2 separate regions of the Homo sapiens genome follow, and region 1 is linked to region 2. Evidence: fine-mapped expression QTL. A gene starts in region 2. The other region holds a variant in brackets. All regions are shown on one strand. Distances are from middle to middle. Region 1 overlaps PCBD2 (pterin-4 alpha-carbinolamine dehydratase 2). Region 2 holds the start of SEC24A (SEC24 homolog A, COPII component).

What was found. PIP is the estimated chance that this variant, and not a neighbour inherited with it, causes the effect.
Region 1: its variant is the best candidate, but not a certain one, in a credible set for the expression of SEC24A in whole blood (INTERVAL, PIP 0.54).

Annotation. Positions count from the first base shown.
Region 1 is chr5:134,930,049-134,935,428 of GRCh38, forward strand. The region is part of intron 2 of PCBD2 (pterin-4 alpha-carbinolamine dehydratase 2); the gene reads left to right. Among named protein-coding and RNA genes, the nearest start is that of PCBD2, 28 kb to the left of the region's middle. The variant C/T (reference allele first, on the strand shown) is at 2,852.
Region 2 is chr5:134,646,305-134,651,684 of GRCh38, forward strand. It overlaps SEC24A (SEC24 homolog A, COPII component), which reads left to right and starts at 2,481. Exons shown (of 23, transcript NM_021982.3): 1 at 2,481-2,869. The coding sequence starts at 2,773. RefSeq lists enhancers at 2,022-2,081, 2,092-2,381, 2,129-2,666.

The DNA of each region.
Region 1 (5,380 bases), 280 kb after region 2:
ATATTAGAGCTAGAAAGGATGGGGCAACTGAAGCCCAGGGGTAATGTAGTTTGCCCAGGGTGACAACGAACTAGTGGCAAAGTTAGGACAAGACTAAATGCAACTTAGATTATGAACAGGGTCATGTAACTGTTTACTCATGTCTCTCTCCAGCTAAGGTATAAGCAGCTTGAGGACAGAGACTTGGATTGTACCTGTGTACATCTCCCATAGTACCTAGCCCAGGGTTACCTAGTTGTATTTTGAATGCATGAGGGCCCATGATTAGGTTCCCCATGGGTGATCCTAGTCAGTGCACTTAGTCCCAGGGGAACATAGTGTTTCATCTTTTTGTTCCCTGTAGGATACATACAACCCTTTCTCACCAGGGACTTTTCCTCTCCCTCATCTCCTTACTCCTAGATATCGATGATTCCTAATGGTGACCAGCTTATCTGGCTGCTAAGTTGCTGTGTCTGAGAGATGAGAGAGGGTGCTCTGCATTGCCACAGGGTGCTTCCCAGAACAGCAGCATTGATTGTGCCTTTGTTCTGCATGCAGTACTGAGACATCAGAGAAGAAAATGGCTGCTCATGGTGTCTCTAGTCAGTTGTCTCCAACCATGAGAGAGACTAAGACTGGCATTCAGTATTTTAGCACCACGGTTTCAGCCACCCACAACTACAGCCACAATCGGATGAGAATATTGATGTCCTGAGGGCCAGTGGCAGATACTCGACCAAATACCACACTGGGAGGCTGCCACAGGCCTGTTCGCTGGCTATCCATTAGGCATTCATTTCTGTTTCAAGACAATTCTTTAATCTCAAATTCTTTCTTTCCCTTTCCTTTTCTGTGACCACTGGTCCAGCGTTCTTGGCTGATTTTTCTTTTTCTTTTTGTTTTTTGAGACAGAGTCTTGCTCTGTTGCCCACGCTGGAATGCAGTGGCATGATCGTGGCTCACTGCAACCTTCACCTCCCAGGTTCACGCCATTCTCCCACCTCAGCCTACCGAGTAGCTGGGACTACAGGCACCCACCACCATGCCCGGCTAATTTTTTTTTATTTTTAGTAAAGACAGGGTTTCACCGTGTTAGCCAGGATGGTCTCGATCTCCTGACCTCGTAATCTGCCTGCCTTGGCCTCCCAGCACTTTGGCCACCGCGCCGGCCTTCTTTTTCTTTTTTTTGAATCATAACTTGGTGGTGTGCTATAAAGAAAAGCTAAAATATATTGGCAGTAATTTGAGGAATTAATTTTAGAAATTTGGATATAAAAATGTTGCTTTAAGGTCATTCTGTACACAGGTAACTCTTAATATTGCATCATTTACCTGAAATGCAGCCAAATCAGTTTTCTTTGTGACAGATTAGAGGGTTACAAAGTATTTTATGAACTAATGAGTGTTTGAGTGTCTATTGGGTATAGTAGCTCATTGTTAGGTGACCTATGAACTAACATAGGTTGTTTCATTGAAGCTTCCCAGAAGCCTCCTAAGGTTAGGTGTTCGTATTCCCATTTTGCTAATGGTGGAAAAGTCAGGGAAGTTAAAGAGCTTGCTCAAACTTCCAGAGGAAGTGGGCAGTGGGACCATCATTCCAAGGCCAGATATCCCACCCTAAGGTGACTGCTCTTCTCTTAACACAAGTCTGTATTTTGAAGAATTGTAGAATAACAAAGGATATGGATTGCAGTTTTGTTTAGGAATGTCTTAGAGCTTTGAATGGGCAACTCTGCTATTCAGAATTGAATCTGTTCTGTTTAGGAAGAAATGTTTATTTTGGAGTGCTTAAAGGAGGCGTATGTTATTTGCATGTTTTGAAGAAAAAGATTGCCAGCTACTGAAAGGAATTTGACTTGTAAATTGCTACATGGTTCCCTATGCCCTACCCTGAAAGCATTAGTTTATAATACTGGATTGATCAATGATCAGTTCTAAGTCTGTTACAGATTGGAGGTGAGCATCTATCTAGAGGGGAAAGTCACTTCCAGATAGGTCTGCAGAGAGCAGCTGAAAACTTTATTTGGAGAAGTGGAACTCTGCATACAGAAGATAAACATCGAAGCCACTAACCGTATAGCTGTGGATACAGATGCATAGAAGAGAGGGCCATTTTAATTCTGAGTTTCTTTAAACAATTTTTTTTTGTTTCTTTTTATTATTTTTTAAGAGATGGGGTCTCTGTTGCTTAGATTGGAGTGCAGCGACGTGATCGTAGCTTACTGTAGCCTCAAATTACTGGGCTCAAGCGATCCTCCTACCTCCGCCTCCTGAGTAGCTGGGACTATAGATGCATGCCACATTGCCTGGCTAATTTTTTTTTTTATTTGAGTTGTAGTCTTGCTCTGTCACCCAGGCTGGAATGCAGTGGTGCGATCTCAGCTCACTGCAACCTCCGTCTCCTGGGTTCAAGCAATTCTCCTGCTTCAGCCTCTCAAGTAGCTGGGATTACAGGGATGCGCCACCACGCTCAGCTAATTTTTGTATTTTTAGTAGCAACATGGATTCACCATGTTGGCCAGGCTGGTCTTGAACTCCTGACCTCAAGTGATCCCCCCTGCCTTCTCAGGCAGGGATTATAGATGTGAGCCACCATGCCCACCCCTGGCAAATTTTTTAATTTTACTTTTTTTTGTGGAGATGGGATCTCACTATGTTGCCCAGGCTGGTCTTGAATTCCTGGCCTCAAGCGATCCTCCCATCTTGGCCTCCCAAAGTGCTGTGATTACAGGCGAGAGTCACCACACCTGGCCAATTCGGAGTTTCTTAAACTATGATTCTGTTATGTAAGCTTGTGGGTGAGTCTCTTCCATTTTTCTATGTGTTTAAAACTGTGAGCTTTAAATAGAAGGGTTTAACATTTATAGGT[C/T]ACTCATACTCCACAGAGATCCACATCCACCAGGCCTCTCATTCTAATAGGAATGATACCCTCCTGTTAACATTTGAGTGGCATGTTCAGCTGGTAAATAAATTTTTTTTTATGATTGCATAATATGTTTTATAATTTGGAAAACAGAAAAGTATAAAGAAGAAAAATATACCTGTAATCTTTCTGCTCACTTAAAAACGCTGTGAATGTGCATTTGTGTGAATGTTTATGTATGTATATATATTTGGGATCATATTATAGATATTTTTGGTCAGTTGCTTCTTTCATTTCATGTATAGTGAATATTTTCACATCAGTAAAATATTTTACCTCATGATTTTTTGTTTTGTTTTTTGAGACAGGGTCTCACTGTGTCACCTATGCAGGATTCAGTAGTGCCATCTTGGCTCACTGCAGCCTCTATCTTCTGGGCTCAGATGATCCTCCTACCTCAGCCTCCTGAGTAGCTGGGACTACAGGCATGCGCCACCACACCCGGCTAATTTTTGTATTTTTTGTAGAGACTGGGTTTTGCCATATTGCGCAGGCTGGTCTTGAACTCCTGGGTTCAAGCAGTCCACCCACCTCAGCCTCCCAAAGTTCTGGGACTGTAGGCATGAGCCACTGCAGCTGGCTTACCACACGATTTTGAATGGTGGGAGATATATAAATTATTCCATTGAACAAAAAAGCCATATTTAATTTAGCCAATCCCTTTCTACGGTAACCATCCTCACAGAAGAGGCTTTGTGAGCCCACCTTTTCTAAATGCTCCGTATTAATGCTGTCAGTTGGACACAAAAGTGTCAGGGAGCTGTACTGGGTAGTTCTTGCTAAATATACTCAGGATCTCCATGCCCATTGAGATCAGGAATAGATCCAGTCACCTGTTAAAAAAGTAAATAGAAATCATCACCTAGATAGAATTGATCCATTGAAGCTAAAAAATCAAGCCCTTCAAGTTACTTGAGACAGCCAGAAGGAAAATGTTATGTTATAGGGCTTTGTAGCCACCATTCTCACAGCTTAGTGCAATGGTGTAGGAAATATTTTCACAGAAATATTTCTCTTTTAGAGAGTTTTTTCGGATAAAGAAGGCTTGTTTAATTCAGGAAGAGTTATTTCATAGGAAATTAAATCTTTGTAAATCCTCTATCACATTTCCACACTTGCTAGTTCTGTGGCAAATGATGGCTTTCGAGTGGTTCAGGAAGGGTTTCCTGAAAGCAAACAATTCCATGTTTTATACATATTTGTGTTTTTATTTTTGAATTGGATAAGTAAGGGACATGTACTTTCCCCTTTGTATTTGTCTCTGGGTGATATTGCTGGTTCTCAAACTCAGAATGGTAATTAATTACTTATAATGATTTTAAAAAAAAAAATTTCACTTGGTGAAAATGTTTTCTTGGGCCCGATGAATGACCCCAAAGAACTTTTACAACACAACCAGTAATGTTGGGCAGGTGCTGGAGAGTGGCTGCTGCTTAGAGATCAGTAATTGTTACATCATGGTTTGGTATGCTCCGTGGTGTCTAATCAGGTCGTGTGCTTGGGAACCATGAAATAATTCTCTTTTCAAGTCTTAGTGCATCATTTTTTCTGACATTGATCAAAGATTGGAAAACTAGTATTATATTTGTAGCCACGGTATTCATAACTGTCTTACATTCTTAATCTTTCGGCTTTTTGGTTGAAATACATCTATGCCTCTTAAATATTGAAGGCATAATATCCTTTAACCTACAACTGCAGAGTTAAAATGAATTTTATGTGAAATATTTAGTTGTGGACCACATCTTCAGCTTTTTATATGCCACAGTGGTCTTGTTTTTTTCCCTTCCATTGTCTGATAGTGAGGTCATTTTCAGTCCTCTGAGAAATTCTATTCCCAGCCAGATGCGGCTCATATATTAAAAGTAGCACCTGTGGCTAATATCACAGCAGCTTACCATAAATTTACATGGTAACTAGGATTATATCTGTCAAGACTGTTAAAAAACATCTAGATTTAATTTGATTTCCAGTATTGTAGAAGCTATCCAACATTTTGCTTCATAACTATATTTTAAAAGTTAAAAATCACTCCATTGTTAAGTTTTATAGCACTCCTAGTGCCCATTAAGTTGATTTGTTCAATGGAGGTCAGAGTAAAGCAACTTGGCTACATTAAGATCGGAAACCAACCCATTTGTGACAAATTTAGTCCTTTCGTGTGAATCTTCTCAATGTTTCTGCACTGATTGGATTCAGGTGTAGCTTATGTCAGTAGCATTTAACCTCAAAAGAATGAGCAATCTGATTGGGTTGTTGTAAATTATGAAGCATTTTGCTTTTGCTGGTTTAAATGTAACTGTTGACTCTGCTGCCCGTGCCTGACTGCGCCACTGCATCTGCCTAAACAGGAGTGGTTTGGGTTTGAAGACATCTTAGAAAATTGGGTACATGCCCTCATCCCTTTCCCTCCTTTATGTGACCTTCCTAAACTCCTTTATTCCCCATTATCCTTTGAGTCATCTCCCACATGTT
Region 2 (5,380 bases):
TATAACTTGGGATTTTGTTATAGTGGCTCCAAACTGTAAACAATTTGACCAAAAGTATCATCTTCATCTTAAGATTTTAACTGGGCGTGGTGGCTCAAACCTGTAATCTCATTTTGGAAGGATGAGGCAGGAGGATCTCTTGCAAGACCTTCTCTTTACAAAAACAAACAAACAAACAAACAAACAAATAAAAACCTAGCCAGGCATAATGGCACACACCTGTAGTTCCAGCTACTCAGGAGGCTGAGGCTGGAGGACTGCTTGAGCCCAGGAGGTTGAGGCAGCAATGAGCTGTGACTGCACCACTGCACTCCAGCCTGGACAACAGACTGTCTCAAAAAAAAAAAAAAAGTTATTGTACTTGGATCTTGTACAAAGGAATTGAATTGTTAAATGCTACTTACAGCAAATATTTATTTATTTTTATTTTTTATTTTTTGAGACAGTCTTGCTGTGTCAGCCAGGCTGGAGTGCAGTGGCACAATCTTGGCTCACAGCAACCTCCGTCTCCTGGGTTCAAGCAATTCTCCTGCCTCATCCTCCTGAGTAGCTGGGATTACAGGCATGTGCCACCACACCTGGCTAATTTTTGTATTTTCAGTAGAGACAGAGTTTCACCATGTTGGCCAGGCTGGTTTTGAACTCCTGACCTCAGGTAATCCGCCCGCCTTGGCCTCCCAAAGTGCTGGGATTACAGTTGTAAGCTACCACGCCCGAGCAAATACATTTTTAGTAAAGTTCTGAGGCAAATGATGAAAACAGGGTTAGTATAAAATTTAGTATTTAGTTATTTGAATTTTTACTGACCTTTTTTAGGCCTGACACAGTGGTTTATTCTTTTTCTTTTCTTAGAGACAAGATCTCACTCTGTCATGCAGGCTGGAGTGCAGTGGTGAGATCACAGCTCACTGTAGCCTCGAACTCCTGGGTTCAGGTGATCCTCCCACATCAGCCTCCTGAGTAGCTGGGACTACAGGGATGTGCCACCACACTGGCCACTTTTTAAAAATTTATTTAATTAAAAACATTGGCTGGGCATGGTGGCTTACGCCTGTAATCCCAGCACTTTGGGAGGCTGAGGCGGGTGGATCAACTGAGGTCAGGTGTTCAAGACCAGCCTGGCCAACATGGTGAAACCCTGTCTCTACTAAAAATACAAAAATTAGCCAGGCATGGTGGCAGGAGCCTGTAATCCCAGCTACTCGGGAGACTGAGGCAGGAGAATTGCTTGAACCCAGGAGGCGGAGGTTGCAGTGAGCGGAGATGGCACCACTGCACTCCAGCCTGGGCAACAGACCAAGACTCTGTCTCAAAAATATATATATATATATATTTTTTAAATAGAGATAAGGGGACTCTCCCTGTTGTCCAGACTGGTCTCAAACTCCTGGCCTCAAGTAATCCTTCTGTCTCAGCCTCCCAAAGTGCTTGGATTACAGGAGTGAGCCACCTTGCCCAGCCCGACACAGTGGTTTAGATCTGGCTTTTTTTTGTATGTAATATAACACTTCATAGCAGGCATTTGGTATTAAATGAATTAGGTAAGATGTACTTCACACTGAGGTTTCGAAACCGCGTGGCATGACATTTTAATCCACAGTACAAATCTGTAAAGGAGGGCTTTATCGTCAGCACAGAGCAGGAAAAACCTAAATAGAATGAAGGCAGCTAAGATGATTACTCAATCATTAATTAACTATGTTGTCCAATCACCGCAGTTTCGACCTCCCTTTGGCTTCAAAAGTCAAAAAAGTCAACTTGCAAAAAAAAAAAAAGTCTACTTGCTCTGAAAGGAAGTTTGAGTTCTTTACCTTACTGTAAACTCTTAGAAGAGGAAACAAAACTGCCATTTAAATGTGCTAATGAACTTGAGCGTGACTATGCTGTGAATCAGCGAGTTTCAAAATTAAAATTCCTCTGAGTCCTCCAGTCAAAGACAAAGGCCTCCTTCTTGGCTTGATCACACTATTAACATGTACACATATTTAACCACCTCTTTTTAAAACCCCTTATAATTTACATCTGAAACACGAAGACGAAATGTGAATGAAATACTGCGATGAACATTAACCGCCCCAGCTCCCAGTGGTGGTACGGTCTCAACAGAGGACGATGACTTCTATGGTCTCAGGTAATCTTCACAAAACCCGAGGAGAGGAACTGTCAGTCCCACCCCACGAAAGCGGCTACTGAATCTCAGATTGCCCCACGATCCTGGCTCTGCGAGCGAGGTCACGTTCACAACGGCGGGAATTTCCGTAGCGGTGACACACGGCACTTCCGGCCGGCCGTGAGAGTCGGTGACGTGGCGGCGAGGCCGGGCACGGTCGTCGGGGTCGGGGCACCAGGAGCTGTCAGGTGGCCTCGGGGCAGCCCGGCTGGCAGAGAAGAGTTCGCCGGCGCGGCGGCGGCTGCTGCGAGCCCGGAGCCGGAAGTGCCACGTGTCCTGATTGCGGCTGCGCGGCCGGCGGCTGACAGGCACTTCCGGCCAGGGCCTCCCTCCTTCTCTCTAGGTTTGGCTGCCGCCTTCTAGCCGGGCGTTCGCGGCCCCGCCGGCCCGACTCTCAAGCCTCAGCTCCCAGGCTAGGCTGTGGCCGCCGGTGGCCTGGGGAGAGTGCGGCGCCATGCCTCGGGCTTAATGCGCCCCCCCCTCTTCTCCCAGTCTTCAGTCTTAAGTCGTTAGCCTCCTCCCTCCGCTTTCAGCAGTGGTCTTTCAGCTCTCTTCTTGTGCGCTGTTGTCGACCCCGACCAGCCCCTTCCAACCCAGTCATCATGTCCCAGCCGGGAATACCGGCCTCCGGCGGCGCCCCAGCCAGCCTCCAGGCCCAGAACGGAGCCGCCTTGGCCTCGGGGTCTCCCTACACCAACGGTGAGTGCTGTCCGGGGGGAGGGCGCAGCCTGGCCAGGGCTGACTGACCTTTGCGTGCCACTGCTGCTTGAGGCGACATAGATAGAGAGAGTGACCTCCTTACCGGGTTCTGGCGCGGATGGTGGTGGGCGGCTGGGCCAGGGGACCACGGCAGTTGTGCACCTGTAGCCCCAGGCTCGTCTCAGTCTTTCACATTTATTTAGTCGGTCACCAAAACAGTAAATGAGCACCTGCTGTATGCAACGCCCTGGGTGAAACACGGGTGAGAAAATGCCTCAAAACTCGAATATAAGGATCATAGTGTTTGTGTGCCTTCGCCTTCCTTGCCACCTCACCCCAGTCTCCTAGAGAGCAGGATGTGGGGTCTGATTCTTCTGGGTTCCGCAGGCCCTGAAGTGGGGTGGGGGTCGTACTCAGTCTGAGTTTCTGGAGATGAATGCATGCTTTTGGGACACCCCTTTAGGGCCTACTCATCTCTCCCAGAACCTTCCCAGAATTGTACCTACAACAGCTGTTCAATGTTTCAGCTGTGGAAAAACCAAATAGAAGGGAGGATCTCCTGGTTGACTTCTAGATGTCTGGACAGCATTTGGAAAGTGGGTGGACACAACTCTCTGAATCTCTGACAAGAGTCTACATGTACATTATAGTTTGTCATTTGATGTGAGAATGTCTTATAATTTTATACCTCTTCTAGGATTCCTTAAATCGTCCTACATTGTGATTTGCTAAGATTATTTCAGTTGTTACAATAGACAAAGACTTTCTGCCGACAGATTGCCTACTTACCAATTTACTTACAAATCTTTGGTTTACAGAAATAAGACTAGTAGAATAATGCTAAAGAACTTAAGTTGCCCATTAGAGTCTAAGAGTTCTGTGAAGTTGGAGAATACAGACAGTGACTAAAATCTCTAATTTACATTGTTTTTAGAGAAGACCGCTGTTTTCTTTACAAAGATGGCTCTAAAAGACTTTTAAAAATGTCTGTGAGTAGGCAACTATGTGGGCAGAAGAAAGAATAAGTGGAGGAAAGCCACTGAAAGGGTACTGAGTTAACCATTCTTTCTCAAAATTATGGTAACAGATTATGTACACTACATTTTATTCTAGAATATTTAGTAACATTTACACTGAGGATGAGAAAAAATGTTACATGGCTATGGATTTTTCTTATAATCTATAAATTGCAGTTTTACATTAACTTTAAATGACAAATCCTCAAATGTGCTTCAACATTTATATATGAGTGTAGTTGTCATAATATTGAAATGTTAAAGGGATTTGACCACTGTGGTATGCTGTATTAGAGATACTGTCACTATGTTGATTTGATACAGTCCAACAGACATTTGTTCCACATCTTTTTTTTTTTTTTTGAGATGGAGTCTTGTTCTGTTGCCCAGGCTGGAGTGCAGTGGTGGTGATCTTGGCTCACTGCAACCTCTGATTCCTGGGTTCAAGCGATTCTCCTGCCTCCTTAACCTTCCAAAGTGCTGTAATTACAGGCCTGATCCACGGTACCCAGACCTCTTTTTTAAAATATAATTTTCATAGTCTTTTTATAAGTTCCATTTCTACAGGGTTTTTTGTTTGTTTGTTTGTTTGTTTGTTTTTTGAGACGGAGTTTTGCTTTTGTCTCCCAGGCTGGAGTGCAATGGCGCTATCTCGGCTCACTGCAACCTCCTCCTCCCAGGTTCAAGCAATTCTCCTGCCTCAGCCTCTGAAGTAGCTGGGATTACAGGCACGTGTCACCACACCCAGCTAATTTTTATATTTTTAGTAGAGACGGGGTTTCACCATGCTGGTCAGGCTGATGTCAAACTCCTGACCTCTAGTGATCCACCCACCTTGGTCTCCCAAAGTGCTGGGATTACAGGCATGAGCCACTGTGCCTGGCCTCTACAGGTTTTTTGTATTTTGCCTTTTTTTTTTTTTTGAGACAGGATCTTACTTAAACTGTCCCTCAAGCTGGAGTGCAGTGGCAGGATCACAACTCACTGTCACTCCTGGGCTCAAGCAATCCTCACACCTCAGCCTCCCCAGTAGCTAGAACTACAGGTGCATACCACCAGGCCCCATTTTTTATATAAGTATATAATATATATATATAATGTATATATTTTATTATTATTTTTTGAGTCAGAGTTTCACTCTGTTGCCCAGGCTGGAGTACAATGGCTCGATCTCGGCTCACTGCAACCTCCATGTCTCAGGTTCAAGTGATTCTCGTGCCTCAGCCTCCCGAGTAGCTGGGATTACAGGCCTGTGCCACCACAACCGGCTAATTTTTGTATTTTTAGTAGAGATGGGGTTTCACCATGTTGGCCAGGCTGGTCTTGAACTCCAAACCTCATAATGATCCGCCCACCCTGGCATCCCAAAGTGCTGGGATTACAGGCATGAGCCACCACGCCCGGCCTAATGTAAAGATATATGTATATTATATATATAATGTTTTATATATATTTTGTAGAGATGAGTCTCTCTATGTTGCCTAGGCTGGTCTGA